Linked DNA regions of Homo sapiens: regions 1, 3, 4, 5 and 6 are each linked to region 2. Evidence: fine-mapped QTL for protein levels in blood plasma. Region 2 holds a variant in brackets. A gene starts in each other region. All regions are shown on their reverse strands.

The links. PIP is the posterior inclusion probability: the model's chance that the variant is causal. The UK Biobank Pharma Proteomics Project read protein levels with antibody pairs (Olink). The fine-mapping took linkage between variants from a reference panel, not from the people measured, so its PIPs are less certain.
Region 1: CCL2 starts here. The variant in region 2 is fine-mapped to the plasma level of the CCL2 protein (UK Biobank, PIP above 0.99).
Region 3: it holds the start of CCL17, and the variant in region 2 is fine-mapped to the plasma level of the CCL17 protein (UK Biobank, PIP above 0.99).
Region 4: CCL13 starts here. The variant in region 2 is fine-mapped to the plasma level of the CCL13 protein (UK Biobank, PIP above 0.99).
Region 5: it holds the start of CCL11, and the variant in region 2 is fine-mapped to the plasma level of the CCL11 protein (UK Biobank, PIP above 0.99).
Region 6: it holds the start of CCL7, and the variant in region 2 is fine-mapped to the plasma level of the CCL7 protein (UK Biobank, PIP above 0.99).

The regions. Positions count from the first base shown.
Region 1 is chr17:34,252,648-34,257,647 of GRCh38, reverse strand. It overlaps CCL2 (C-C motif chemokine ligand 2), which reads right to left and starts at 2,363. Exons shown (of 3, transcript NM_002982.4): 1 at 2,223-2,363; 2 at 1,309-1,426; 3 at 445-926. The coding sequence starts at 2,298. The coding sequence ends at 821. RefSeq lists enhancers at 1,692-2,666, 2,667-3,641, 4,585-5,000.
Region 2 is chr3:42,862,483-42,867,595 of GRCh38, reverse strand. It overlaps ACKR2 (atypical chemokine receptor 2), which reads right to left. Exons shown (of 3, transcript NM_001296.5): 3 at 310-3,130. The coding sequence starts at 3,093. The coding sequence ends at 1,939. Among named protein-coding and RNA genes, the nearest start is that of CYP8B1, 11 kb to the left of the region's middle. The variant A/G (reference allele first, on the strand shown) is at 2,972.
Region 3 is chr16:57,402,106-57,407,196 of GRCh38, reverse strand. CCL17 (C-C motif chemokine ligand 17) reads right to left here and starts at 2,430. Exons shown (of 4, transcript NM_002987.3): 1 at 2,361-2,430.
Region 4 is chr17:34,354,099-34,359,211 of GRCh38, reverse strand. CCL13 (C-C motif chemokine ligand 13) reads right to left here and starts at 2,732. Exons shown (of 3, transcript NM_005408.3): 1 at 2,610-2,732; 2 at 1,623-1,737; 3 at 602-1,186. The coding sequence starts at 2,685. The coding sequence ends at 1,081.
Region 5 is chr17:34,283,099-34,288,098 of GRCh38, reverse strand. It overlaps CCL11 (C-C motif chemokine ligand 11), which reads right to left and starts at 2,357. Exons shown (of 3, transcript NM_002986.3): 1 at 2,215-2,357; 2 at 892-1,003; 3 at 1-514. The coding sequence starts at 2,290. The coding sequence ends at 409.
Region 6 is chr17:34,267,747-34,272,850 of GRCh38, reverse strand. CCL7 (C-C motif chemokine ligand 7) reads right to left here and starts at 2,630. Exons shown (of 3, transcript NM_006273.4): 1 at 2,485-2,630; 2 at 1,588-1,705; 3 at 609-1,154. The coding sequence starts at 2,560. The coding sequence ends at 1,049.

The DNA of each region.
Region 1 (5,000 bases), not on the chromosome of region 2:
TAACTCTTTCCTTATTTCCTAATACTGGCAGTGTCTGTATTACTCCAGGTTGGGGTATTAATTGGAGAGGTACAGATTGGGGGGTGGGTAGCCCAGTTAGGGGGCAGTTGCAATATGTTAAGGGAAGAATTGCATGCAGGGGTCAGGGTCTGTGAGAAAAGGAATGGGGGTTGGGCTCTTGCTAAATGGGTGACCAGGGTCATTGGACTCTGGGCTGCTTATGTTGAAGACTGGAAGGGTGGTGCTTTAATGCCTAACTGGCCTGCCATAAAGATTCTTCTACGGAGACTCAGAGGAGACCACCCAGTGGAGAAGACCGGGGCCAATCCACTTTCCCATTCCTTCAAAATGTAAGCCCCACCCTCTGAAATCATGTTCCTTTGTCACCACCAAGCTCATACTCTCAGCTTTGTAATTTCCTTCAAGAAAACACTGGAAGTCAGGTTTTGTACAAAAATATATTTATTTGGTGTAATAGTTACAAAATATTCATTTCCACAATAATATTTTAGCAATGCATTGGAATGTTAAAAAAAATTCTTTGTATTAATGATTCTTGCAAAGACCCTCAAAACATCCCAGGGGTAGAACTGTGGTTCAAGAGGAAAAGCAATTTCCCCAAGTCTCTGTATCTAAAAAACACTAGTACCATGAAAGATAAACTTAAAACATCAATAACTTAAATAAGAATTAACATTACTTAAGGCATAATGTTTCACATCAACAAACAAAATTCATTATAATAAAATAAAACAGGGTGTCTGGGGAAAGCTAGGGGAAAATAAGTTAGCTGCAGATTCTTGGGTTGTGGAGTGAGTGTTCAAGTCTTCGGAGTTTGGGTTTGCTTGTCCAGGTGGTCCATGGAATCCTGAACCCACTTCTGCTTGGGGTCAGCACAGATCTCCTTGGCCACAATGGTCTTGAAGCTGTGGGGAGGGAGGACAGAGTTAGATGAAGTTCCTTTGCAGTTTTGGTCTAGAAGTGCAGCCCATTCTGCACCAAAGGGCTGCCATGGGAGCTAGAGGAGGAACGCAGGTGGAAGGAGGGAACCCAGGGCAAACTGCTCCTATAGGTGTCCAGGTGGAGCCATCCTGACTTCAAGCTAAAGAAATTGGGGTGTTCTGAATAGGCACCCAGGTGGAGAGTGATGTTGGGGTTCACTTTTTCCCTTGGTGCCTCAGTTTTCCCATTGGGAACCTTTGTACATTAAGTTAAATAGTGCACTCTCTGACTCTAGGTTTATGAGGCTTGTCCCTTGCTCCACAAGGAAGAACTTCAGGCCAGGGAAGGTTGGTGTGCTGAACTCACATCACAGCTTCTTTGGGACACTTGCTGCTGGTGATTCTTCTATAGCTCGCGAGCCTCTGCACTGAGATCTTCCTATTGGTGAAGTTATAACAGCAGGTGACTGGGGCATTGATTGCATCTGGAAAATAAACCACAAAGAAAAAGCATTTTAGGATGAACTGGATTATTCTGATCTTAAGAGCAGAAAAGAGTCATGAGGAAAAAGCAAAAGGCAGGCAGGAGAAGACAAAGAGCTCATTAAATCCCAGTGCTTCTGCCTATACCTCAGAGCTAGAATGTGATCTTTGACCCAATGACTCAGTTTCCTATGCTGTAAAATGGGTATATAACATTGATAATGGACAGAGAGAAGGAGGAGCTGTTAAAGCTAGATAATGCCTACAAGTGTCATTAAGACGGACCAATAATCCAGATGATCAGCACCAGGGAAGATCAGCTGGGGAGCCCCACTATGAGCCTCCTTTTAGACTCTGAATAGGCTATGCCTGGTCATGAGTTTCCCTGATACTCATTACCTCTGCAGAGTCACCGTCTCTGGAAGCTAAGGTGAATGAAGCACAGACCAGATTCTGGGTCTCCAGCGTGTCTGGAAACAGCCTACACACCCACCCTCTCTTTGATTACCCTGATCCCCAAACTCTGCTGGAAGCAGCTGGGGGAGTAACTGCGCTGAGTGTGTTCCCAGAGCTGGAATCCTGGAAGGAGCTGGATTTGGGGTTCACAGCTGGAATTCTAGTTCAGGCTCTGCCGAGCAGCAGCTGTGTGGTTGGGCTCACCCCTTGTCCTTTTCTGAGTCACCTTATCTTGGAAAAGTAGCGTTAAAGCAAGACTGTGGGTACCACGTCTGCTTGGATGGTCCATGATAACTCAGAGAGAAGACAATGTGGTTCAAGGAGAAGAAGAGGGGGCCTTACCTGGCTGAGCGAGCCCTTGGGGAATGAAGGTGGCTGCTATGAGCAGCAGGCACAGAAGGGCGGCAGAGACTTTCATGCTGGAGGCGAGAGTGCGAGCTTCAGTTTGAGAATTGGATGTTTCTGGGTTAGTCTCAGCCTCTCGGTTCCTCTGGCTGCTGTCTCTGCCTCTTATTGAAAGCGGGCAGAGGGAGAGAGGGCGGAGTCAAGCAGGAGGAGGGATCTTCCATGAGTGATAAGTGGGCTGTTAAATCTGCTGAGCAAATGCAGCATCCTGTGGATTTCCAGGAAGTAGGAAAGGGAAGCAGGGGGTCAGGACGAGACACTTTTTCCATTCACTGCTGAGACCAAATGAGCAAATGGGGAGGATGGGGTGCCATTAAGCCCAGACTGACCACAGATGTGAACTAAGAGGGTTATTTTTAAGGATTCTGCTTTCTCTGAAGCGAAAACTGCAGAAAAGGAAGGAAGCGAGGAAACTAGATGAAAGCATGTCAGGCTCGCTGCCAGCTTACCTTCAGGCCACATTCCAAGGGGCCTCCCAGCCAGGAAGGAGCTCTCAAGCTTTGGCCGGCTCCCTGACAATGCATTAAATCCATTTGCTCATTCAAATGCAGAATAGTAGCATCATAGAAGCCTAGCAGAACTGTAGGATTGTGTAAACATTGAACTGAATTCTAAGAGTTCTAGGGTTTCAGACTTGGACAAAGGCATAGACAGCATGTAGTGCTGCAGAAGAAATGCCAGTGTCATACTCACAGAGTGCTTACTCTGCCAGGAATATTCTCAGACCTTTACAAATATTAACTCTGTAAATTCCCCAACTTTATCTAGTAGGGATTGCTAATTTTCATGTTATAGATCAGGCAACTGAGGCACAGAAGGGTTAAATAGCCTGCTCAAGGTCCCCTCGAGCACAGAACCCAGGCAGCCCTGTCCCCAGTGGGCTGCCACCTCTCTGACATACTGCTGGAAGGAAACGTGTACAAGTCCTCCAACTAGTTGCCTGCTTGGGTCCTCTCTCTGTCCTCAGCATCTTCCAAATGGGCAGACAGCTAAAGGAGAATCTAGAAACATTCCTCATGGCTAAGTCATTATGAGTTAGGAGGCTGTTGCTAGCATAGCAGGCAGCAGTGGACAAGAAGTTCATCCCTGGTTATGGCAGCTATTCTCCTGGCTTCCTTCTTAATTTCCAAGGGACATGAGTAAGCAGTGGAGGAGTATTTCGGGAATTGGAAAGCCTGACTTCATTCCTCAGTTGTGCCTTAGATTTCCTCAGAAACTACAGAAGCACACTGATAAAAACCCAAAGACCTTAGAATTCATTTCAGTGAACTGTTGTCTCTTACAAATATGATAGGAGTACTTGAGGCATGTTAATGGCTGGGCTGAGTTTAAAATTCTGATCTCTCGATTCTCCTAGCCCACTGCCTCCTCCTTCTGAGCCTTGCGGTGCCCTTGCCCAATGGGCATACAAAGACTAGTGACTTCTTTCATAAAGGGTCACTGAGGCAATGTCTATAAATGCATGGGGTTTCTTGAAAGAAAACACTTTTCACTACACTTGTAAAAAGAAACGGGTTGTATTCAACAAATGACTGTTTTATTTCTAGTAAGTGGTCAGTAATGGCATTGTTGAGTGCATTCAGGGAGTCAGGTATGGTGCTGACATACTTTCCAGCGCTGCCTGCCCAGTCCTCCAACCAACCCAGCTTTCGTTAGGTTAAAACTGAAGTTATTTGTCCAGTAACTCAGACAGAATAGTAGATGTGCTGAGACTCCCACCCAGGATGTTTCCATTCCAGAATCTCTTCTTCCTGGGACTAGACTTGATGTCTCATGATGGATATTGGTTTCCTGGAGAATCCCAGAGCAGAGACTCTATGGAGTGGCCATTTCAGACTCTGGTGGAATTACAAAAAGCAGGATGAAGAGAGAACAAATCAACTCGAGCCCTGCTTTGCTTGTGCCTCTTGAGGAGCCTTATTCTTGTTCTGCCTGAATCTCACTAGTTACTCCTTTTCTCCCCAACCAGTGTTGAAACTTCTCTGTGTTTGTCTCAGTCCTCTGCTCATGCCTCAATCCATTCTTATCCAATGAATAAAATGTTTCCAGGACTAGAGACTGTGCAACTTTGTGTAGGAATTTCTTCCTAGGCCATCTCACCTCATCTTCCAAGAAGTTTTCCTCATATCAGGGGAAACCTCTCTCTAATCAGTTAGTGCATCCTTTACCATGAACTTGGTGGACCGCATTCAATTTCCCTTTATAATCCAGTCATGCTTCGGGTTTTCTCTAGGTTAACAAGCTGAAAGATGCTGAGATCTTTAAATAAGTCTCTCCTGGCTTAGTCATATCAGCATCACTCATAGAATCCCAGAATCAATGGGCTTATAGACATCCTGTGGCATGACCACTTGTTTTTATCTGATAAAGCCACAATCCAGAGAAGGAGACCAATTAGCCCATGGTCACAGAGAAAAACTTCCCAGCTTTGCTGGCTGAGTGTTCACATAGGCTTCTGAGTGTTGGAAGCATGTCTCTACTTCAGGAAGGAGTTGTCATCTCTGGAAAGTGACTTGGCCTTTGCATATATCAGACAGTAAACACAGGGAAGGTGAAGGGTATGAATCAGAAAAGAAAGTCTTCTGGAAAGTGATAGCTGTCTGCCTCCCACTTCTGCTCTGTCAAGAAAAGATGCCCTCCCCCGCTGGGAGGTCAGTGCTGGCGTGAGAGAAGTGAGTGGAAATTCCCACTCTGAGGAGGCAGCTTTGGAAGTTC
Region 2 (5,113 bases):
GCTGGTGGACATAAGGGCAAAGAGTGTAGCCAGGGTGAGGGCAGATCACATAGGCCTTAAAGGATTACCGTAAGGAGTTGGGCTTGTTAAGTAAAAACTATGGAAGGCCATTGTTTTGGACTAACCTCCTGCACTAGGTCCCAGCTGACCAGACCAAACCAAAATGGAATCTGTCGTATTAAAGTTCCATGTCCTCAAACCAAAACTAAGTTGTTATCTGACCTTTGAGACTCCTGGAGACAGAGTTAACAGCCAAATTCCCAAACATGACAGTTTCAGTTGGCGTAATAATGCAGACAGTAACCATGCTCATGATAATGAAGTTCCCCGTTTTAATCATTATTAAAAAGTAACCTGAAGAAAACTGATGTCAACCACCCTGTTCCGGCCGCATATAGAAAGTAACTTTGAAATGATGAATCTGGCCCTGTGCAGTGGCTCACGCCTGTAATCCCAGCACTTTGGGAGGCTGAGGCAGGCAAATTGCTTGAGCCAAGGGTTTCCAGTCCAACCTGGGTAACATACTGAGACCCTGTCTCCACAAAAAATACAAAAATTAGCCAGGTGTGGTGGTGTGCTCCTGTAGTCCTAGCTACTTGGGGGCTTAGATGGGAGGATCACTTGAGCTCAGGAGGTGGTGGCTGCAGTGAGCCATGATTGTGGGATTGGACTTCAGCCTGGATGACAGAGTGAGATCCTGTCTCAAAAAAAAAAAAATCAATCTTTTTTTTTGTTCTTCATTTCTTTCTGCCTTTGACAGCCCCTTCCTGTCTATAAAACTAACCTCTTCTACCCAGCTCATTGCAGCACTCTCTGTATTTTATGGAGTGAATCTGTTCCTGATTCAATGAGTCTGTTGCCTGATTCTAGAATTGCCAATAACGCTAATTGAGACCTTTAAACTAAATTTGTTGTAATCTGGTGTTTTGACAGGCTGCTGCTCTGAGGGAGGCGGAAGTAAAGGCCGAGAGTATCAGGATCACTCTGGCTGCTAGGTGCAGATGAGATGGGAGGAGAGCAAGAGAGAGGAAGGACAGGGGCCAGTTGGAAAACTATTACAGCAATTCTCCAGCCTGGCCAACATGGTGAAACTCTGTTTCTAATAAAAACACAAAAATTAGGGCCAGGCATGGTGGCTCACACCTGTAATCCCAGCACTTTGGGAGGCCAAGGCGGGTGGATCCCAAGGTCAAGAGATCGAGATCATCCTGGCCAACGCAGTGAAACCCCATCTCTACTAAAATTATAAAAATTAGCTGTGCGTGGTGGCACGCGCATGTAGTTCCAGCTACTCAGGAGGCTGAGGCAGGAGAATCGCTTGAATCCGGGAGGTGGAGGTTGCAGTGAGCCGAGATCGCGCCATTGTTGTCCAGCCTGGGCAACAAGAGTGAGACTCCGTCTCAAAAAAAAAAAAAAAAGAAAAGAAAGAAAGAAAGAAAAAAAATACAAAAATTAGCCAGGCATGGTGGCAGGTGCCTATAGTCCTGGCTACTTGGGAGGCTGAGGCATGAGAATTGCTTCAACCCAGGGGGAGGAGGCTACAGTGAGCGGAGATCTCGCCACTGCATTCCAGCCTGGGTGACAGAGCAATAGAGCAAGACCCTGTCAGAAGGAAGGAAGGAAAGTAGGAAGGGAGGAAAGGAGGAAGGGAAGAAGCGAGGGAGGGAGGGAGGGAGAGAGGGAAGGAAGGAAGGAAGGAAGCAAGGAAGGAAGGAAGAAAGATTGTAGCAATTCAGAAAAGAAAGCGTGGTATCCTGGAAGCAAGTGAAGAAAGTGGAGGAAGAAGGCGGGGCGAGCAAATGCTGCTGATGGCTGAGAACTGAGAACTGACCACTGGGTTTAGCAACACAGTCACTGAGGCCCCTGGAGAGAGCACTTTGAGTGGACACCCAATTGAGCTGGTTCCCATCTGTTCCCACCAGACCAAAATTTGGTCACTCAGGCTGATTTATTCCCCACATCCTCCTTGTTAGGGTAGTTCTCAGACTGCCTCTCTCCAAGGTCATTCATGCCAGTCATTTCCTCTTGGGCAGTAAGTATGCTGCTCTCAGAACAGCTGGATAATGAGGCCTGGGCAGTGCCAGGTGCCAGGTGCCATCCAAGCACGGCAGCCAGGAAAGCCTTCAGGTACTGGCGGAAGCGGTGACTGGAGAAGGCATACAGGATGGGGGAAAAGCAGCAGTGAAGGAAGGCGATGCTCTCTGTTACCTGGAGTGCGTAGTCTAGATGCTGGCTGACCTCACAGTTCCCGAATACTTGCAGGTCCAACAGCGTATGCAGAAACAAGGTGAGATTGTATGGGAACCATAGCACGAAGAAGGCCACCACCAAGGCTGCAGCTATTTTTAAAGCCCGGCCCTGGCCTGCGGGCCTCAGCCTCACCAAGACACAACCAATACGGGAGTAGAAGAAGATCATGGCAAGGAGTGGAAGGAGAAACCCTAGGAGGTTCTGCTGGAAGCGGAGGAAGAGCTTCCAAATGGTCCCATGCCCGCCGAAATCTGCGTGGCAGTTCCACACACCCTTGGGATTTTCATGTGTCTGTACAAAGACCATATCAGGGATGGAGACGGCCAGGGACACAGCCCATACTATGGTAGCAAGGAGCAGGCTCTTGGCCCGGGTCCTCAGCCTGTGGTAGGGCTGAGCATGAACGATCTCCAGGTACTTGTCCAGGCTCATGCAGCTAATGAAAAAGATGCCACTGTAAAAGTTAATAGTATAAAGAGTGCTCACCATCTTGCACAAGAAACTCCCGAAGACCCAATGCCAGGCCACGGAGATGCCCCAGAAGGGCAGTGTCACCAGAAACAGAAGGTTGGAGATGGCCAGATTCAGCAGATAGATCTCAACCATCCGCCTGCGAGGCACGTAACGGAGCAAGACCATGAGAAGAAGGAGGTTCCCGCTGAGGCCCAACACAAAAATCAGGCTATAGAAGACTGGGAGGAAGACTTTGCCAAAGGACACC[A/G]CTGCATCCTTCCTGCAGAGCATGAAGGCCACTTCATCCAGGTAGTCATAGTAATAGAAGCTGCTATTCTCAGAATCGGCATCCTCAGTGGCGAGTGGCTGCGGAGAGGCAGTGGCGGCCATGTTGGAAGGAAATGCCCAGTCCCGACGTCCTGTAGTGCTGCGGGGGGAAAATATGGTGAGACCTAGCATTCTCTACCTTTCTCTAAACCCACTTTTGCTGCTGCCCTGGGATGTCCAATAGACTCTTCAAATCTACATCAGTACCTGCAGTCCAGCAAGTAAGAGCAAAAGCTTAGGGAGCCATCTGCACCACTTAATAGTTATGTCACCAAGATATCCCCTCACCTTTGTCTTATAACTGAATCCCACTTACTCTGGGACACTTACTCTTGGATAAGTGACTAACCTTCAGGTGTTCTCAGAGTATTTAATTATTTCATTATGGTTTTGTTTCTTCATTTAAAAAGACCTATAGTGTCTTTCAAATTCTTCTTTATTCTTTAGGGATATCAATTCATCTATTTAATGTGTCTCCTGACCCTTCCTCATGTATGGTTTATAATTTCTTTAATGACAGCTTAGCTTCAGTGGGGCTTTTTTAAAAAATTTTGTTTATTATACTTTAAGTTCTGGGATACATGTACAAAACGTGCAGGTTTGTTACATAGGTATATACATACCATGGTGGTTTGCTGCACCCATCAATCTGTCATTTACATTAGGTATTTCTTCTAATGTTATCCCTCCCCTAGCCCCCAATCCCCCAACAGGCCCAGATGTGTGATGTTCCCCTCCCTGTGTCCATGTGTTATCATTGTTCAACTCCCACTTATGAGTGAGAACATGCAGTGTTTTGTTTTCTGTTCTTATGTTAGTTTGCTGAGAATGATGGCTTCCAGCTTCATCCATGTCCCTGCAAAGGACATGAACTCATCCATTTTATGGCTGCATAGTATTCCATGCTGTGTATGTGCTACATTTTCTTTATCCAGTCTATCATTGATGGGCATTTGGGTTGGCTCCAAGTCTTTGCTATTGTGAACAGTGCTGCAATAAGCATATGTGTGCATGTGTCTTTATAGTAGAATGATTAATAATCCTTTGGGTATATACCCAGTAATGGGATTTCTGGGTCAAATGGTATTTCTGGTTCTAGATCCTTGAGGAATCACCACACTGTCTTCCACAATGGTTGAACTAATTTACACTCCCACCAACAGTGTAAAAGCATTCCTATTTCTCCACATCCTCTCAAGCATCTGTTTTATCCTGACTTTTTAATGATCATCATTCTAACTGGGGTTAGATGGTATCTCATCTCATTGTGGTTTTTATTTGCATTTCTCTAATGCCCAGTGATGATGAGCTTTTTTTTCATATGTTTGTTGACTGCATAAATGTCTTCTTTTGAGAAGTATCTGTTCATATCCTTCACCCACTTTTTGATGGGGTTGTTTTCTTCTTGTAAATTTGTTTAAGTTCTTTGTAGATTCTGGATATTAGCCCTTTGTCAGATGGATAGATTGCAAAAATTTCTCCCATTCTATAGGTTGTCTGTTCACTCTGATGATAGTTTATTTTGCTGTGCAGAAGCTCTTTAGTTTAATTAGATCCCATTTGTCAATTTTGGCTTTTGTTGCCATTGCTTTTGGTGTTTTAGTCATGAAGTCTTTGCCAATGCCTATGTCCTGAATGGTATTGCCTAGCTTTCTTCTAGGGTTTTACGATTTTAGGTCTTATGTTTAGGTCTTTAATCCACCTTGAGTTTATTTTTGTATAAGGTGTAAGGAATGGGTCCAGTTTCAGTTCTTTGCATATGGCTAGCCAGTTTTCCCAACACCATTTATTAGATAGAGAATCCTTTCCCCATTGCTTGTTTTTGTCAGGTTTGTCAAAGATCAGATGGTTGTAGACCTGTGATGTTATTTCTGAGGCCTCTGTTCTGTTCCATTTGTTTATATATCTGTTTTGGTAGCAGTACCATGCTGTTTTCGTTACTGTAGACTTGTAGTATAGTTTGAAGTCAGGTAGCGTGATGCCTCCAGCTTTTTTCTTTTTGCTTAGGATTGTCTTGGCTATATGGGCTCTTTTTGGTTCCATATAAAATTTAAAGTAGTTTTTTCTAAGTCTGTGAATAAAG
Region 3 (5,091 bases), not on the chromosome of region 2:
TGACCCCCTTTCCCTCTGCTGACAACATGATCCTGTCTCTCCACTTCCATAAAGACCTCCCCTTGACTTCAACACCCTCGCATGCTGCCCTCCCATTTCTCCTTTCATTCATGACCAAACTGCTCCGATGTGTGGTCTGTACTTCCCTCTACCATTTCCTCTCTGCCCACTTGTGATTTAATTAATCCTCAGCAATGTGGCTTCCAGCTCTGATGCTCTAGGAAAGGTGCTCTCACTGAGCCTCTTGATCCCCTCCAGCCACTCCCTGAACCTCCCACTGCCTTACATTGGGCAGTGATTACCAGCAGAGGCTCTGGAATCATTACCTACAGCCCTGAGTCCCAGTCACTCTTCTACTTGTTCCTGGTTGTGTGACTAACAGCGATTTTATGAACTTCAGTTTTCTCATCTGTGAAATGGGTGTGATGATAAGACACTCCCTCATGGTATGACCTGGAAAACTAACTGAGATGAAGTCTATAAAGTTCCTAGTCTCCAGCTGGCTCAGGGAATCGCCTTGTCATCCCTGGGAACCTACCATCCTTCTTGATGCTCCTCCCACTGGGATTTGGGACATGGTTCTTCCCTGAGCTCCCTGTGAGCTCCTCTTCTCAGAAATGTCCCTGAGCTCTCACTATAGGCTGGGGTGGGTGTTGGGGCAGGGGAATCTCAGCAGTTAAGTCTATTAGTTTACTTTGTCCTCACAACAGCTTCAGGGAGTAAGAACTATTAGTTTCTACAGATGAGAAAATTAGGAACTGACCAGAGTAGTTTAAGCAACTGGTCCACTGTAATCCCAGCACTTTGGGAGGCTGAGGTGGGAAGATCGCTTGAGCCCAGGAGTCTGAGACCAGCCTGGGCAACATAGTGAGACTCTGTCTCTACAAAAAAAATAAAATGAAAATTAGCCAATCATGGTGGTGCACGACTGAGCCATGACTGTGGCACTGCGCTCCAGCCTGGGCAAAAGAGCAAGATTCCATTTCAACAACAACAAAATAAATCTGCTTCATGGGCACAGAGCTAGCTGGTGGCAGGAGCAAGCCTGGGCTTCTGTCCTAGACTTTGTTTTTGCCTCAAGCAACCTTCCCTTCCTCCCTGACATCATCTACCCCAGATCTTTTACCTCTGGATAAAGACTTCTTTTTTTTTTTTGAGACGGAGTCTTGCTCTTTCGCCCAGGCTGGACTGCAGCAGCGCTATCTCGGCTTACTGCAAGCTCCACCTCCCGGGTTCACGCCATTCTCCTGCCTCAGCCTCCCAAGTAGCTGGGACTACAGGCGCCCGCCACCATGCCCGGCTAATTTTTTTTTTTTTTTGTATTTTTAGTAGAGACGGGGTTTCACCGTGTTAGCCAGGATGGTCTCGATCTCCTGATCTCGTGATCCACCTGCCTCGGCCTCCCAAAGTGCTGGGATTACAGGCGTGAGCCACCGCACCTGGCCTGATAAATACTTCTTAAATCTCTGTCTCCAGCCCTGACCAGTAACTAATCAGACACACCCACCTGGACACTCCTCCTTCCGGCCCATCTTTCTGTGGCACCCCTCAGCTCTCTCTGCCTTGCAGCCTGGCCAGCTCTGTGCAGTTCTGTCCCCCACACTAACCTGTGAGCTGCTGGGAAGCAGAAGTCTGTCCTGCTATGGTTCACTCAGCCCCAGGTACCAGAAGGGCAAAACCGAGTTCCCTCTCACACCAGCCTCCTTTTTTTCTGTTCAAGCCAGCATTGTTTCCCATCTCCCCATCTGCCCCCAAGTCTGAAACTTTGCCCTTGACTCATTCCTCGCCTCCATCCCCCACATTACATCAGGCAGAGACTCTGCCCAGCGCTGTCTTCAGTGGGAGCTTGGCTTCCTTGCTTCCTTCTCATCTCCACTGGCTCAGCCCTCATCCTTCACACCCAGAGAGTCTCAAAAACTTCTGGGCCTATTTCTTCCTCTCTGGTCTCTCCTGACACCTCCCTCATCAGCTGCATGCCCACATGTGGTGGATCTTTCACAAGGGCTGCCCTGACCATGTAATGCCCCCTTCCTCCAAAACCGTCAATGGCTCCCTGCTTCCTTCCCCATCCAGTCAAAACTTTTCAGGCCAATCTTGAAGCTGTACCTTCCATCTAGCCCCTCCTTCCTATTCAGTCTCATCTCCCTGCTCCCCAACATTGAGCTTTCTTGAGGGCCAGTGCGTCCCCTCACTTTGTGACTTGGTTTGCTGCTTCCAAACTCCTGTCCCCTTCTTGTATGGATTATCTTCCCTTGATCCAAAGTCCATCCACCGCTCATCTAACACATGCCCTGAAAGATCCAGCGAGGGGGTCACCTCACAGTGGAGGGGTTAGGAGCAAAGACTCTAGGTCAGGTCACCTGGTTTTGAATTCAGCTCTCCCATCAGCAGGCGGTGACACTGTGAGCTCAAAGTCACTTCTCTCTGAGCCTCAGTTTCTACAGCTGCAAAATGAAAATAATAACAATAATTACATTAGAAGGCTTTGGTTTGCATCAACTGCCTTACTGCTTATATCTGGCAAATAGTACACGTTTCTGACTTTAAATATCATCTATATGCCAACCACTCCCAAGTTTCTCTCGCAAACTCCAGCCTCCTTCTACGTCCAGCTGCCTACTCGCCATACCAAATAGGCAGCTCCAACCCCCCAAGTCTGAAGCTGAATTTCTGATTCCCACCCACCCCTACACCTGCTCTCTCCTCCTTCTCTGCCAGCCCCTTCCTTCCGGTTACTAGGGCCAGAAACCTGGGCGCTATCCCTGACGCCTCTTCCTCTCGCCCCCAACTTCCCATCTGTTGGGTGAGCTCATGTCTCTGCTTTCCAAATACACCCAGAAACCAGCATCAATCCCTGGCTTCCTACAACTGCCTTCTGGGTGCTCTCCCTGTCTCCATCCTTGCCCCCTACAGTGTATTCTCAGCACAGCAGCAGAGGGACCATGAATCTCCCGTGTTCAGAACGTCCCCGTGGCTCTCCACCTCACGCAGAGGACAAGTCCAAGACCCTCCAGCAGCCACGAGGCCCCGCGAGTTCTGTGCCCTGCTCTCTGCCCACCTGTATCTCCTGGTTCCCTGGTTCACTCTGCCCCAGCCACCCTGGCCTCCTCCCTATGCCTCAAACCAACCAGACAGACATGCTCCTTCCTGAGGAGGTTTGCACGGACTGTTCTTTCAGCCTGGAATGTTGTCCCCAGATACCTGCAGGACTCACTCCTTCACCTTTTTCAAACTTTTTTAGGCCGGGCGTGGTGGCTCACGCCTGTAATCCCAGCACTTTGGGAGGCCGAGGCAGGTGGATCACTTGAAGTCAGGGGTTCGAGACCAGCCTGGCCAACATGGTGAAATCCCATCTCTACTAAAAATACAAAAATCAGCTGAGCGTGGTGGCAGGTGCCTGTAGTCCCAGGTACTTGGGAGGCTGAGGCAGGAGAATCACTTGAACCCAGGAGGCAGAGGTTGCAGTGAGCCAAGATCACACCACTACACTCCAGCCTGGGCAACAGAGCAAGACTCTATCTCAAAAAATATATATATATATATATTATATATATTTATAATATATATAATATATATTATAAATATATATTATATATATTATAAATATATATTATATATATTATAAATATATATTATATATATATAAAATATATATTTATAATATATATAACATATATATAATATAATATATATATTATAATATATATATTATTATATAATATATATAATATAATATATATTATAATATAATATATATATTATAATATATATTATAATATAATATATATATTATAATATATATATTATATATAATATATGTTATATATATTATAATATATATATTATATATATTATAGATAATAATATATATTATATATATTATAGATAATAATATATATTATATATATTATAGATAATAATATATATTATATATATTATAGATAATAATATATATTATATATATTATAGATAATAATATATATTATATATATTATAGATAATAATATATATTATATATATTATAGATAATAATATATATTATATATATTATAGATAATAATATATATTATATATATTATAAATATATATATGTATTTGTTTAGATTACATCTTTCAGTGAAGTCAAATTGCATGCCATCCCCATCTCTTCCTCTGCTCTTTTTTTTTTTTTTTTTTGCTGAAATGCTTATATCCTCTGACATGCTAGGCCATTCGCTTACTTATGTCTGCTGTTTACTATCTGTCTCCCACCTGTACCCCCACCCCCATCCTACTGGGATGTAAGTTGCATGGGACAGAGGTTTCTGTTTCTTTTCTTTAATGGAATATATCTCGGCACATGGTAGGCCTTCAATACATAGTTTTTGGATTAAGTGAGTGAATGGATAAATGGCTGGTGTTGTTCCTGAAGCAGAATGCAGAAACCCTTCTTGTTACTCTCACTCTTACCAATGGACTTGTCTCAATGTCTCTCTGATGCCTGGGCTCCAGGACTTCTGAGCTTCCACTCAAGCCTTGTAAATGAGTGCCTTTTATTCATTGCTAGAGTCTGACTCTCTTTCCAAGGAACATCTGTCCCTGTTTCCAAGCTACTTCAAAGGCAGGTCTATGGTCCCCTGATGACATTGGGAAAATTTGAGGTTCACCCCTCAGGGTGTAGTGACAGAAGTCACTGAGAACTCAGAAGTCCTCTGCTCCTAGTCTGGCAGCCTGCCTGCAGTCGGGGTGGGGGGATTGTCCTGCCAAACTCGACCCTCTGGGCACCCGAGGAAGATCTGTTCAGCACCAGGGTCAGTGACAAGCACCCAGCATCCTGGGAAGAAGCCTCACACCCTTTCCAAGGAGCCTGGTGGATCTGGCCTCTTTGAAAGGCCTTGGGAATCTCAGCCACTGCAAAAGCCAGCAGGGAATGGGGTCACGACTCAACAGCATTTGGAGATTTGACACGTCGCACAATGCCACCTGGGTCATGGCTCTCCCCAGGGGAGGCTGAGGGTATTGGGAAGGGCTGTGGCCACTTCTGAGCAAGCCCCAGACCTGGGAAGCAGGAGTCCCTAGAGAGCCCTTTGCAGGGAAGAACCAGCACCTCAG
Region 4 (5,113 bases), not on the chromosome of region 2:
AGAACCTGCCCTCAACTTTCATTTCTACATGTCTCCAACTTTTACATTCTGGAAGCCCATATCGGACCGTTTGGGGATATTCCCCCCAGGCCCTCTCCCCACATTGCTATCTTGGACCTCCCCTAAAAGAATCTTTGCTATGACCATACTTCCCCATCCTCTAAAGTCCATTAGGCCCAAGCACCCTCTTCCCTACCAATCCTGAGGCTCACTAGGACTTGGTCATCTGGTTTCCCTCTGAGTGTCAGGTGCACATGAAGTCTGAATCACTTGCTGCTTGGAGTGGGGAGGCATAGATTGGGGTGGGAGACTAGAGGGGGAGGGATGGGTTTACTTTTGGCAGGAGTGTGGTTTTAAAGAAAGAAATGAACTGAATATGAAACGGATGAGTTGCGAGCCAGGAGCGCCCATGCTGGGGACTGGAGCCATTGTTCCAGAACAGCCTGGGCTGGTGAGGCAGGCCCTCCTTGAAACTCAGATGAGCCAGGCTAGCCCCATGGCCAGGGCCTCTGTACATCTGCCTTCCACTGGCATGCCATCCACCCACACCTCTGAGAGCCCCTACTGGTTGGCAGTTACTCCTGAAGAAAACACCACTGTGTAGGAGATTTTAAATAAAATGTATTTTCTGCAAAATGTCAGCAGTCCTACTATTGCATTCATCTTTCCACAATAACATATTTAGCAACACCTCACATTCACAAAGAGCTCTCCTTCCTACATTGCAGCATCCCTTCATGTCCATGACTCCCACAGGCATGCTCTCAACCCCTGGGAACCGAATACAAACCCACTGCCAGCAGCTCATAGTGGAAGGGAAGGGGGCTTAGAGACAGCAACCTACTTGCTCAAGGCCTTGCTTTAGAAAAGATCAGCAATACTCAAATAAACTCCAAACCAGCAACAAGTCAAATAATAGCCAATATTACTTAACACATAGTACATTTTGAATCACAAAACCGAATGCATCCTATTTGAAAATTATGGTAGAAGTATTCCAAAGCATAGAAGAGGAGGCCAGAGGAGAATGGAAAAGTCATTTCACGTACTCCAGCTTGATTTCAGTAGGGGTAGCAGAGTTCAAGTCTTCAGGGTGTGAGCTTTCCGGCCCAGGTGTTTCATATAATTCTGGACCCACTTCTCCTTTGGGTCAGCACAGATCTCCTTGCCCAGTTTGGTTCTGAAGCTGTGGAGGAAGGAGATCTGGCACAGTTAGATGGAACCCTTTGAGGGTTTACCCAGGAGATGACACACTGGGTTCTAAACCTGCCTGGTCCACCTACTACAGGTGAAGGGGCACCCCTCCAGGACAGGAAGTAGGAGGTGTGTGGACAGAAGGGGTCTCTGGAGGCAGCCACTGCTCTTGCTGCCCCTGGGAAACTGATCCTGGCATCTGCTAAAGGGTGTGGGCTGGTGCCCATCCAGGAAACAAGGTGTGGGAAATTATAGGTCCTCTTTGGACCTGTTGTGCAGCCAAAATTGGAGGATTTGCATCACACAGTCTGGCTAGATCTCATCCTAAGATCTCAAGTCAGTCTGACGTCTGTCTCCTGGGGCAGAACTTTGGATTGGGGAATGTGGGAGTGGGGAGGAGCCAGGTGAGCAGGGATTTTTCTACCCACATGACAGCCTTCTGGGGACACCTGCTGGTGGTGATCACATAGCTCTTCAGCCTCTGCAAGGAGATCTTCTTACTGCTAAATGTGAAGCAGCAAGTAGATGGGACGTTGAGTGCATCTAGAAATAGTTACAAAGAAAAAGACTTTGAGGATGTGTTAGGCTTTTCTCAGCTTGAATACAGCAGGGAGCATCTGTATGGGATGCAAAGCAAAGAGGAAGAAATAGATCTTACTCACCCCCAAGCCCAGCACTCCCACCCTAGACCCTGAGGTGAGGTGGGACCTGTGACATGTGCCTCAGGATCTCAAAGGCTCAGCTGCATGGTGGAGACATGTCACAGCCATCTAGGGGAGGCCACGGGCAAGGCCAGTGGGAAAGGTCCTGGGTGTGGTCCCAGATCTGCAGAGTTTGGGACGATCAGATGAGGTCAAAGAAAAGGCCCTAAATCTGGAGTCAGAAGCTTAGGTTTCATTCTTGCTCTGCAATAACCTGGAGGTGGATGGCTAGGGTCCCTTCTGCCTCCAACATGGGCTTCAGCTTTCTATCTTTAAAATTAGATGTTAAAGTGAACCTCTGAGGAGCCTTACTATTCTGGTGGGCTTAGAAGTGGGGCACTTGGCTGGGCCTGGTGGCTCACGCCTGTAATCCCAGCACTTTGGGAGGCCGAGACGGGAGGATCACTTGAGGTCAAGAGTTTGAGACCAGCCTGGCCAACATAGTGAAACCCCTTCTCTACTAAAAATACAAAAATTAGCTGCACGTGATGGCGGGTGCCTGTAATCACAGCTACTCAGAAGGCTGAGGCAAGAGAATCGCTTGAACCTGGGAGGTGAAGGTTGCAATGAGCCAAGATCGCACCCCTGCACTTCAGCCTGGGCAACATAATGAGACTCAATCTAAAAAAAAAGTGGAGGAGCACTCGGGCTTAGGTCTTCCTTGAATAGAGAAACAGAGGGAAAGAGAGGGAGAGTCGAAGGGAGGTGACTTACCTGGCTGAGCAAGTCCCTGGGGGTTGAAAGCTGCTGTCATGAGCAGCAGGCACAGAAGCACTGCAGAGACTTTCATGTTGAAGGTTAAGAGTTGGAGATTTCACAATGTTTCTTTGCCTCTCTGCTCCTCTGGCTGTTCCGCCGGCCTTTTATAGGGAGTGGAGAAGCTTGGAACTCTCAGAGGACCTTGGCCTGAGCAGGGCGTTGACCAAGTCATGATGAAGGGGGATCCTGAATCTGCTGAGCTGGAGCTGGGCACCAAAGACTTTTCTAGGAAATGCAAGAGGGAAGCTGAGGGCTGAAACAGCATGGCATGGCTTCCTTCTGGCTGTTCAGGCCACAAGGAGCCAGAGAGGAGAAAGGGACACAGACGCGCCCCAGCCATTCACCATGGGAAGCCATAAAGGAGCTGTTTTCTTCTTACTTTCTCCAACAGGAAAGAGAAAAACAATGAAAATTAACTCCTGTAGAGAAAGAGTGCTGTGCTAAGGACTCTGTTCACGTTATATATTTAGTTTGAGGAGGTACATACCATTATTATCATGCCCATTTCATAGAAGAGGAAACGGATGCAGAGAGATTAAATAACTTGACCAAAATCTTATGGGAAATGAGAGGGAAAGCTAGAAGAGAAAGCTGGTCTGCTTATATTTTATCACCAAGGCAGTTTCAACTTTTGTTTAGCAGCAGAAGTCTTTTTCCAAGTCAACTTTTATGTGGAAGTCTAATATCTGAAACAGATTAAGTCAGATTTCTGATGACAGGGGCTCCTTACATTACATATTGTGTCCCCTTCTGCCCCTCAGGCCCAGAGGGACATGGTTCAAACACCTCTGATTGATGCAGGCCCCGTGTTTCCAGGAAGGACCATTGGGTTTCTAGAGCTGTTGATGGGAGGGCTGGGGTGGCCCTCAGAGCAAAGAAGTGAGGTGTTTGGCCCATTCCTGGGCTCCTCCTGCGAGGGGCACATATCTGGGAGCTGGGAGGTGGGGAGGGAATGGCTTAAAATGGTTGAACATGTCCCTTTCCCACTCATCCCTAGCTCCAAGACTTGGCACAGTTTTTGTGCCTTCCTGGAATACTCATCCCTCTGCATTCCACTATAGCAAAATAAGCCCAGTGAAAGTAAAGGGAAGAAATAAAGAGCTAGGATTAGAGAAATAGGAAACAGTAAATATTAGAAAGGATAGATGAAGCCCAAAGCTGGTTCTGTAGCCTATAATTAAGCTAAAACTCTCCTGAACTGAAAATGAAAAAAAAAAGAAAAAAGGGGCTGAGGCGGGGGGATCACTTGAGGTCAAGAGTTCTAGAGCAGCCTGGACAACATGGTAAAACCCTGTCTTTACTAAAAAAAATACAAAAATTACCCAGGCATGGTGGCACATGCCTGTAATCCCAGCTACTTGGGAGGCTGAGGCAGGAGAATTGCTTGAACCTGGGAGGCCGAGGTTACAGTGAGCCAAGATTGCACCACTGCACCCCAGTCTGAGTGACAGAGTAGGACTCTGTCCCAGAAAAAAAAAAAAAGAAAAGAAAAAAGGAAAAAGGTACATATAACCAGTTGCAGAGCCTGCAGACACCAAAAAGAAAATGATAAGAACCTTATGCCAAAAATTTAGTTTAGAGGAAATGGATGAATTTCTTAAAAATCTAACTGACCAGGGTGCACAAATAAATAAAAAATAGAAAGTCATTCTAAAGCTATTAAAGAAATGGAATCAGGAATTGAAAATCTTCCCACAAAACATTCTCTGGGCTCAAAGGGCACAAACAGCTAATTCCTCCAAGCACTGAAGGAAGTGGTCATTTCAATCTTGTGCAATCTCTTCCAGAGAATATCAAAAGATTGTACACCACTCAATTCATTTTGAGACCTACCTAACTTTGACACAAAAATGTGTCAAGACTCACCTGAGAAAAGGATATTATAAGCTTGTCCCTTCAGACACACATTCCATTCTTTTCCATTCTATTCTCTGCCCTAGGAAGCCAATCTTGGTGGGTTACATCAGTGAGGTTGCTGACCTTCTAGCTTCTGACTGGGTTTAGGCACAAGGGAGCTTCTGAGGACATTAGAGCAGGGAGAAGAGTTAAGTTGAGGTTCTTCTCCTCTGTTGTCTCCCTGTGTTCCTCAACCTGGATACATCCCTCAACTAATGGTTTTAACTTCTTTCAAGGTGGTTTCTCCATGACTCTCCTATCCAGGTTTGCTGAGCTATCCCCTGTTTTTCCTTTTTAGATTTAGGAATATAACCATGTTCTTTTTAAAAAATTTTTATTTTATTTTAAATTTTGGGATACATGCGCAGGATGTGCAGGTCTGTTACATAGGTAAACATGTGCCATGGTGGTTTGCTGCACCTATCAACCCCTCACCCAAGTATTAAGCTCCATCCACATTAGCTATTTATCCTGACGCTCTCCCTTTCCCTCACTCCCTGAGAGGCCGCAGTGGAATAGCCAAGACAATCTTAAACAAAAAGAACACAGCTGGAGGTATCATG
Region 5 (5,000 bases), not on the chromosome of region 2:
TAAAACAACATTTACTTCCATTTAATGAGTCACACTTTGGGTTCACAAGAACAATGACATTTTCATACTGATCATCTTTGCCAGGACCTTTACAAGATTCCAGGGAGGAAGAGAGGAGAGGGGGAACATTGCCCACACGTGACAGGGGATCGAATTGGGGCTCCCAGGGGGTAAAGAATCTGCACAAAGCTTTACAGTTTAAAAATAACTGATATTCATGGAGGATAAGTTTTAAAGCCTCAATAAATTAAATGCAATACGTTTTTTTTTTAAAAAAAAAAATATATATATATAATAAAACCCATGCCCTTTGGACTGATAATGAGGTTACCTCAGAATGCATTGTAAGAAGGGAAAACAAATTAGGCAACACTCAGGCTCTGGTTTGGTTTCAAAAATGGTGATTATTTATGGCTTTGGAGTTGGAGATTTTTGGTCCAGATACTTCATGGAATCCTGCACCCACTTCTTCTTGGGGTCGGCACAGATATCCTTGGCCAGTTTGGTCTTGAAGCTGTGGGAGATACAGGATGCAATTGGAAGGATTGTTTTTGAAAATTCTGCCCATTTGACCCTAAATATTTAAGGACCATCTGCCCCTGGACAAAGGGTTGCTACGGAGAGGAGGAAGGATGAGACTCTTGGGTTAGTTGCTGCTCTTAAAGGCCCAGTAAAACCATCTTTGCTCTTGACTTGAAGAAATTGATATGACTACAGCAATCTCCCAGGCAGGGAGCTGGGAGTGAACACTCACTTGTGAAAATTAATGAATTGGACCATAGAGGTCAAACTATCAGAGTCTATGACTCCCAGCAACTGTGACACAGTTCTTGACTCTGTGCCCTAGACATTATTTTTTTGTCTAGGGGAGGGTGAACTTTATTTACTTACATCACAGCTTTCTGGGGACATTTGCCACTGGTGATTCTCCTGTAGCTCTCTAGTCGCTGAAGGGGTATCTTCCTATTGGCCAGGTTAAAGCAGCAGGTGGTTGGGACAGAAGCTGAATTTTGGGGAAAAAAAATGAACAGAGAAAAAAATGAGCCACATGATGATACATAGACATTTCCAAGCATGACTTTGTAAAGGAAGTTAGGAGAAAGCAAGGAATTGCGAGAGGTGGAGGGAGAATCCCTCTGCTCTGAAGTCTTATGTGTCTGGAGGATGCTGTCCTGTGTCTTCAGCATCCTCCCCTGTGCACTGAGGACTCATCATTACTGTAGAGTGTATGGACAAAGCTTGGTCAATGTGACAAATGCTAGCTCTGTCATTATAAAGACCTACGTGGCCATGTGATGGTCATGGTAATTTTCACCAAATATTCTCCATCCTCTGTTTTGAGACACAAGGTAGACTTGCATTTCTTGGCCACTTTTGTTTGGTTGGAGGCATTAATTAGTTTTGATCAATAAAGAAGGAGACAAAGTGATGGGTGTCATTTTTGAGCCACAGTGCATTGCCTATGCAAGACTCCTGAGAGCTTTCTTCTGCTTTATCACAGTATCCATCAATGTTCCCCCACATGGGCAACTTCTCCATCAGTCTAGAATCCTGAGTATAAAATGCAGAAGCCTGAGCCCATACATTATAGATATTTAGTACAAGTGAGAAAGTAACTTTTGTTAATTTAGTTAATTCTGTTAAGTCATTGATAATTTAGAACTGTTTGTTACCATGCTATGCACTGGCTCAGTGGGACCGATACACTCAGTAAATTTGTCACCAGAGTATGGGAAAATGAGTTATGGAACAAATCTCCTAGATAACTTTCCCAAAGAGTGTCAAAATAAGTCACCTCAAGAGATCCCCCTGGGACCTCGTTCTTCTCTTAGCCACTGTCTCTGAAAGCTGTCCTGGAGTCGAATTAACATACTGAGCTTCTAATCAACAGATTTTCCTTCTCTCCCACTGCCAAAAATGCCCACCATGCCCACAGTAAGACAGAGCCATTCCCCATTCCCAAACACTGTAAGGATAGCTGGGTATGGATGCACCCAGCAACCCTCTTGAATGTGGGGAAAAGACTCGGGAGCTTTCTAGTTCTGGCTCTTCCAGTGACTGGATGTGAGGTTGAGGCATTTCTTGTCCACCCACAAAACCTGTTTCCCTATTTTTCAAATGGAGAATTTGCAGTGAGTCTGTAAAGATTCTTGCTGACCTAGTAGCTCTGGAGGTGGTTACCTTACCTTTCCTGTAAGGAGTTGGGGGGCTTACCTGGCCCAGCGAGCCCCTGGGGGCTGAAGGCAGCTGCTATGAGCAGCAGCCACAGAAGTGCTGCGGAGACCTTCATGTTGGAGGCTGAAGGTGTGAGCTTTGGCGTGAGAGGTGGTGGTTTCTGGGTTGGTCTCAGCCTCTCTGCTCCTCTGGCCCATCTGCCTGCCTTTTATAGGGAGCAGACAGTGTGGGAGATTCCAGGGAAGCCTTTGCCCATGCGGGGGTCACGATGAAGGGATTCCTGATTGCTGACCAGATTCCAGATCCTAGGAAGTCAAGCAGAACAGAAGAGAGGCAAGCTAGTAGGAGGGACTTGGTACATTTTTTAATCCATCTGGATCTTGCCTTGGAAAAGGAGGGGAATATGTGGTTATGAAATGAAGTTAAACATCTGTAGTGGGGGAAGAGAGCAAGAAAACCAAGGCCCTAGGGGATGAGTTGAAATGAAACACCTGTAGTTGGGGAAAGGAGCAAGGAAACCAAAGGCCTGGGGGATGAGTCGATCTAAGAACCTTCCTTGATTCCTGTGTTCACATGGTGGTCTTGAGGATTTTGGAGACCAGGAAGGAGCCCCAAAACTTCCATTAGGCTCCCACCCAGATGCAGAGAGAGCTCAGCAGCCCTGCACATAGTTGCATCTCTGAACCAGGAAGGACAACACACCACAGCTTTGCTGCTGTGTTTCAATGTAATGATCACAGAATCTTAGTCCCTGAAATTTTAGCATGATAGGACATCAGAACTGGATAGTTTCTATTAATCTTGACTTCTGAGGCACTTTAAAACCATTTGCTTAGCTGCTAAAGCCCTTTTCCAAATGGAATTAAAACAAACCCCAACTCATCAAATACACTGTAGTGAAGGGGATTTGTTTGAAATAGAATAGGCAGCCTCTCGTGCCCTTATTCCCCAGGGAACACATTTAGGGAACACATTTGGAAAATCAATCATCTAGTTCCCCCCTCACTCTCTGAGCACACATTGCAGACAAGGTATCTGATGGCTAAAAATATCAAAGAGAGAGGCAACACAAGAACCTATACATATCCCTTTGTTCATAACACTAGGCACCCTAGTTGGAGAGGGTATAAGGGAGGCAAAGTCTTTAATGGAGTCACTGCAGCGGATTACAGCATTGAATACTGGTGTGGAGGTACTGCAAACCTGTTTCCTGTTTTTTCCTGCACACTCTCATATCAAATTGATTGATTGGTACAGTAGCACAAACAAGAATGTTAAAGATTCTGAGGAGTTGACTTGCGTTAGTTAAATACTGTGTTGTGGTTGACTGGTGATGTCTGTCATGGGCACAGGATTAGAGACAGCTCTTGCTGTCCTGCAAAGTCTCTAAGTGCCCATCTAGGATAATTGGTCTATAATTACCTAAAAAGTTAACTATAATTACCAAATAGAGGCCAAAAATGTGGAGTCTTCCCTGTTCTTTCCTGCTCCATTCCTGGTGGGTTAGTCTAATGTAGAACCTGAATTCAGGATATCTGCATTTGGATGATGGCTCTGTGACTGACTAGCTGTGATACCATGGACAACTTACTTAACCACTCTCTGCTAGGGTAAGAGCAGGATACTAATCATGTGTACTTTAGGGAATTGTCGTGTGAATTAAATGAGTTCATGTATCTAAACTGCTTAGAAGAATGACTAAATCACTGTAGGTACTCAGTGAGTAGAAGTTACTGTTTTTTATTATTAGGAAATAGGGCCGGGTACAGTGGCTCACACTTGTAATCCCAGCACTTTGGGAGACTGAGGCAGGCAGATCACTTGAGGTCAGGAGTTCAAGACCAGCCTGGCCAACATGGTGAAAACCTGTCTTTACTAAAAATACAAAAAATTAGCCAGCCATGGTGGATGGTGTTTGTAGTCTCAGCTACTCAGGAAGCTGAGGCATGAGAATTGCTTGAACACAGGAGACAAAGGTTGCAATGGGCAGAGATCATGCCACTGCACTCCAACCTGGGCAACAGAGTGAGACTGTGTCTCAAAAAAAAAAAAAAAAGAAGGGCAGATTGGGAATGCTGGAAAGACCTCAGAGTCTGGATATTTCTCCAAATATTCTTCCAAGTTTTCCCACTGCTTCCAAGTAAAGATATGCTACCGCAGGGATGGTTTCCAAGAATGCCTGAGTTGCACATGTGGCAGATACGAAGTTTTAAAAAATTCTCGGCAGAATAAATTTGGAATATTATTGACCTCAGAGGTGTTTGTCTGACGTGGTTTAATGATTGTTTCTGTAGTAAGAATAATTTCATAACTCTGGCGGGAATTTAAAGGAATTATCAGCAAGCGATTATTCATTTTTGTGTTTTCCTTGAAAAATGGCTTTGGAGTTAATGGGCTTTGGATTTACTCTACACCTGAAAAACCTCAGTGGCTCAGTGGAAATAAATAAAATCAATCTTTAGATATCCAAGCTCTGCAGCTGTTTCATCCAGCTCACTGGCCATCCCTAGCAAGCAGGGGCAGCTTCAAGGGCTTTTTCTCTTTCTTTCTTGGAGGCTTTCTTTTCAGCAATGAAGTAGAGTAGACCAATTTCTTGCCTGTGATTTGGTGCCTGATGAATGAGGGGCCTTGATCAGGAATGATCCTGAGTGATGGGCAGGAAATGGATCCCCCCTTGTGAAAACAAAATATTGACTTCTAAAGAGTTTTTTTTCTTTTTTTTAATTGGAAAAGGTATCTTTTATTTTTATTATTATTCTTTAAGTTCTGAGATACATGTGCAGAGCGTGCAGGTTTGTTACATAGGTATACATGTGCCATGGTGG
Region 6 (5,104 bases), not on the chromosome of region 2:
CAAGCTTTGTCCTTGAATGAACTGAATACTTATTCACATTTTCTGAATCTCATTGTTTAAGGTTGACTTTGGTGTTTGGGGGTGAGAACTGGTGGGCTGAAGAAGGGGTAGAAAGGGATGTTGGACTTGGTCTGAACACCAATGGTGGCAGAAATCAATGATGGCAGGCACTTGCCAAATCATCTGTTGGTCTCCTACTTGATTTTTTAATGAAAGTGACATTTGTATTTACTAGACTAGAGGATTGATTAGAAGGGGGAAAACCAGCCAGTCACAAGGCTGATAGAATAGAAGAGGGGACAGGCTTTTGGGTAGAGCGTGGGATGGTGAGAAAAAGAATGAGTTTGGGAAAAAAGAAAGGTATTTGAACAAGTGGCTGAAGCAGATGTCAGATCTGGAGCTGGGGGGTGGGTTCATCTGGCCCCAGCCTGTGGCTGCCTCTCCCTAACATGCAGGTGAGCCTGGCCTGGGGGAAAGCCCAGAGTCCATTACGCGCTCATTTCTCCACAATGTGAGCCCAACCTCTGCAACCACGCCCTTCACCTTGTCACCCTGTTACCCCCACCAGCTTTATTACTTTATCCTTTTAAAAAACCATGAATGGCAGCTGTTATACAAAAATCTATTTTATGTGAAAATTTGGGAGTCATACATATGCAAATATGTAATTATATAATAACAATATGCTTCCATAGGGACATCATATCTTAACAATTAAAGCAAATCTTTGCACTGATTCTTGCAAGGACTTATACAATACCCCCATGAGGTAGAGAAGGGAGGAGCATCCCACAGTTTTTACAGCACTGAGATGACATATACATCCAAGGCTTTATGTTCAAAACCCACCAAAATCCATGGAAGATTAAATTAAAATATTAATAACTTTTAAAATCTACTAAGAAAAACCATGATTCACATTATTACATAAAGCTCATATTCCTTAGAATTAGATTAAAATAATCTCAGAACCACTCTGAGAAAGGACAGGGTATACAAATTATTTGTTTCTCAAGTCATGGCTTGTTTTCAGTTCAGTCATGAATGTTCAAAGCTTTGGAGTTTGGGTTTTCTTGTCCAGGTGCTTCATAAAGTCCTGGACCCACTTCTGTGTGGGGTCAGCACAGATCTCCTTGTCCAGTTTGGTCTTGAAGCTGTGGAGCAGAAAGGAGACAGTCAGATGGAACACCTTGAGGGTTCAGCCTGGGAGTGTGACCAAGTCTATGGGAAATCTGTCTAGCCCATCAGCCTAGCTGATGGGGATGCCTCAGGGATGAAGGAAGAAGATAAAACAAAGGAAGGGGACTCAGAGAAGCAGCTCTTTTTGGTAGCCCAAGTGAATCTCTCTTGGTTCCAGGATGAAGGAACGAACTGAGATGTAAAATGATAGCTGGAAAGGGAGCTGAGAGTGAGAAGCCACTTTCTTTACTTGTATTGTTTCTCACTGGCAAATGTCTGGGATAAGGTTAGAGATGCTGTATGCATCACAGTATTTGACTCCAACTCATTCTGATACTAGTCCTATTCCCTGCCCAGGGAAGAACCTAGGACTGAGGTGTGAGGGGTGGGTGGTCATCGTCCACATACATTACAGCTTCCCGGGGACAGTGGCTACTGGTGGTCCTTCTGTAGCTCTCCAGCCTCTGCTTAGGGATTTTCTTATTGATAAATCTGTAGCAGCAGGTAGTTGAAGTATTAATCCCAACTGCAATGAAACAACAAGAAGAAAAGTCCATTGAGGGTGTGTCCTGGGTCTTTCTGTTTGTAAAACAGGGAATGGTAAGAAGAAGGAATCAGAAAGAAAGGAAGAGGTGGAGGGAAAAGCTGCCCATCCCAAACCCAATGTCTCTGCCCTTTGAGGCATTTCATAAACTCCCTTTCACTTTTATGGACTGTGAAATAGGGATGCACCATCACCAGTTGAAAGACGGAAGAGGAATTGATGGCTACTCTGGGCATTGCTAGGAGGGGCTAATATAATAATCCAATTCCTTAGAGCAAGGGTACCCCAACTATGGATCCCCTTTTAGGCTCTGAGCATTCAATGCTTGGTCATGAGTTTCCCTGATACGTACCACCTCTGCAGAGCTGCTGTTTCTGGAAGCTGGGCTTCCACAGACCAGATTCTGGGTCTCCCGGTATCTGGAAACAGCCCGCACACCCATCCCCAGAAGCCTCCTGTCTTTGATCACCCTGATCCCAAATTCTGCTGGAAGCAGCTGGAGTGGTAACTGCACTGAGGGTGTTCCCAGAGCTGGAATCCTAGAAGGAGCTGGATTTGGGGTTCACAGCTGGAATTCTAGTTCAGGCTCTACCCAACAGCAGCTGTGTGGTTGGGCTCACCCCTTATCCTTTTTCTAAGTTACCTTATCTTGGAAAAGTAGCTGTTAAAGTGAGACTGTGGGTATCAGGTCTTCTTGATTGGTCCAGGATAACCCAGAGAGGGGGCAATGTGCTTCAAGGAGAAGGAGAGAGGGACCTTACCTGGCTGAGCAAGCCCCTGGGGGCTGAAAGCAGCTGCTGTGAGCAGCAGACACAGAAGTGCTGCAGAGGCTTTCATGTTGGAGGGTGAGGGCATGGGCTTCCACATGAGAATTGGAGGTTTCTGGTTTGGTCTCAGCCCCTCTGCTCCTCTGGAAGCTCTGTCTCTGCCTTTTATAGGAAGCAGAGAGGATGAATCATAGAATGGAGTAATAAATCTATGGAGTAATAAATCTGCTGAGCCAGTGCACTTCAGTGGGAGGATAGGAAATGACAGTATGAGTCGAGGCTAGCCTGTTTTTCAGCTAAGACCAGGAGTGGTAGGTGAGGTAGGGTCTATGTAGAGGAAGACCACAGTATGTAATCTATGGCTATTATCAAGAGACCAGTTTCTCTGAAATGAGACACATTCTATAGAAAAAGGAAGGAATCAGGGATACCAAAGTCAAAGATATGTAAGGGATATTCCCCTTTTCCCTTTGGAGTGGTATCCCTAGGACACGAGTCCACAAAGAGACATTCAAACTTTGGTTCAACTCTACAAAGGACTCAAAGATTCTTCACTGTCTTAAATCCTGGTGGCTTTCTAAAACCCAGAGAAAAGTAAAATAATAGAACATTAGCAGAAAAATAAAATTCAATATTCTTAGAATAATAGTACCTAAAATTGTAGTGTCTATTTCAATAATCTATTGCTGCATAGCAATCTATCTGAAAACAGTGACTTAAAACAATAACAATCTTCTGGGTTTTTTTGCTCTTGACTATATCACAAGGCCTTCATTCAGTGTCTGGGGTCTGGGCTGGGAGGACTTCAACAGCCAGCAGTTGGACCAGATGGAATTTCTCAGGTGTCTCTCTCTCTCTCTGTATGTGTGTGTGTGTGTGTGTGTGTGTGTGTGTGTGTGTGATCTTTCCAGTGGTCCCTCCACATGGCTAGATATTTTGCATGATGGCTTAAGGATCCCAGGTGCAAGGTTAGGGAACATAGTCATACCTCTTAATGGGAAGAGTGTAAAATAATTTGAGGATATGTTTTAAAACCACTATTTGTTTTATAGGCTATCGGAACTGCACAGCATATCAAGATCTTAAAATACTGTGTTTCTAAAACATCTAATGAGCTGTGAAAATATTTTTCCAAGTAAAAGAATATAGGGAAGGCAAATTTATCGACAAAATCAGAGACCTTCAGTTTGAATCAGAGACAAGAGACTTCTTGTCATTCTTCCCACACACATATCTCAGAAATACAAAGAATAAATTTTGGAAACCACTAATCTAGCTCCTCATCTCACATACAACTAGCTCCTCATCTCACATACACATTACAAAATCACCAACTAATCGCCTTCCATATCAGTGAAAAGGGGTTTGATGAGAGACCATGGGTGGGGTCCTCATGCCTATAACTGGGCCATGGATCATGGACATGGAATGCAAAAAAGGAAAATTATTCAATGGGGGAATTGAGCATTATACAACTTTGAATATTAATTTGGGAGCAATGCAAGGCTTTGATTCTGGTTTTAGCTTTATGTCGTTTTATCTTACCCCTATGACTTTGCTCAGGCTACTCATTCTCTCGATTATCTCTTTTTCAAATTGTTTTTACTCCCAGCTCCAGAAATTGGTGAAGAGTTGGCCTACTTTCTATCTCCTTATTTATGGAGTCTTCCCAGCTCACTCTAATGTAACACATTAGAACAGCATATTTTCTAACCCAGGGTGTACGTTCCATCCACCTGATGCTTCTAAAAAGCAGAATCCTTTCCTTTGACTTTTCTTTCTTTTTCTTTTTTCTTTTATTTTGGAAGACAACTATCATGGATAACCTGCTGAATGATCGATGAAGTTGGAGTAGAACACGGGGGTCCTGCCCAGACAGGTCAGGAGCTCAAGGAAGTACTCATGGGTTCCAGTTGGTTAAACCTTTTTCCTTCAGAAAATCCTTAAGTGAAGTACCCCAAGATGTCCCTGCCTAAGATCCCAGAGAAAATGCCTGCTTATATTTATGATGGAAAGACCTGTACCTGTCACCTACAAGACCTGGGAATGGTAAAAATAAAAGGCTGCTGAATTGTTGCAGAATGTTGTAAAAACTTTTAAATAATTTAAAAACAATATAAGCTGGTTGTAGAAAATATGGCAAAATTAGAAACACTTATTTAAAAAAATTGTTGTACATTATCAACATCAGAAGATGTAAGTGGTTAATTTCCTTCCAGATTAAAAAATATATATTTTTAACACTTAGTCACAAAAGAATGTCCTTCTTTGTCTCCAGTAACAATTTTTGTCTTAAAATTTATTTGTCTGATATTATTAACAGTATAGCCACTAGCTCTTTTTTGATTATCATTTCCATGGGGTGACTTTTCCATACTTTTACTTTCAAGTTATCTGAGATTTCAGATTTACAACATGTATCTTATAGATAGCATACAGTTGGTTTATTTTAAAAATTCATTTACTCAACCTTTGCTTCTTGGGGGTTTTAACACTTTTACATTTAGTGTAATTACTGATGAAATAGGATTACCATCTGATATTTTCCCTTTTTTATATATTGATGTCTCTTTTGTTCCTCACTTTTTTAATTACTACTTTACTTTATGAACCA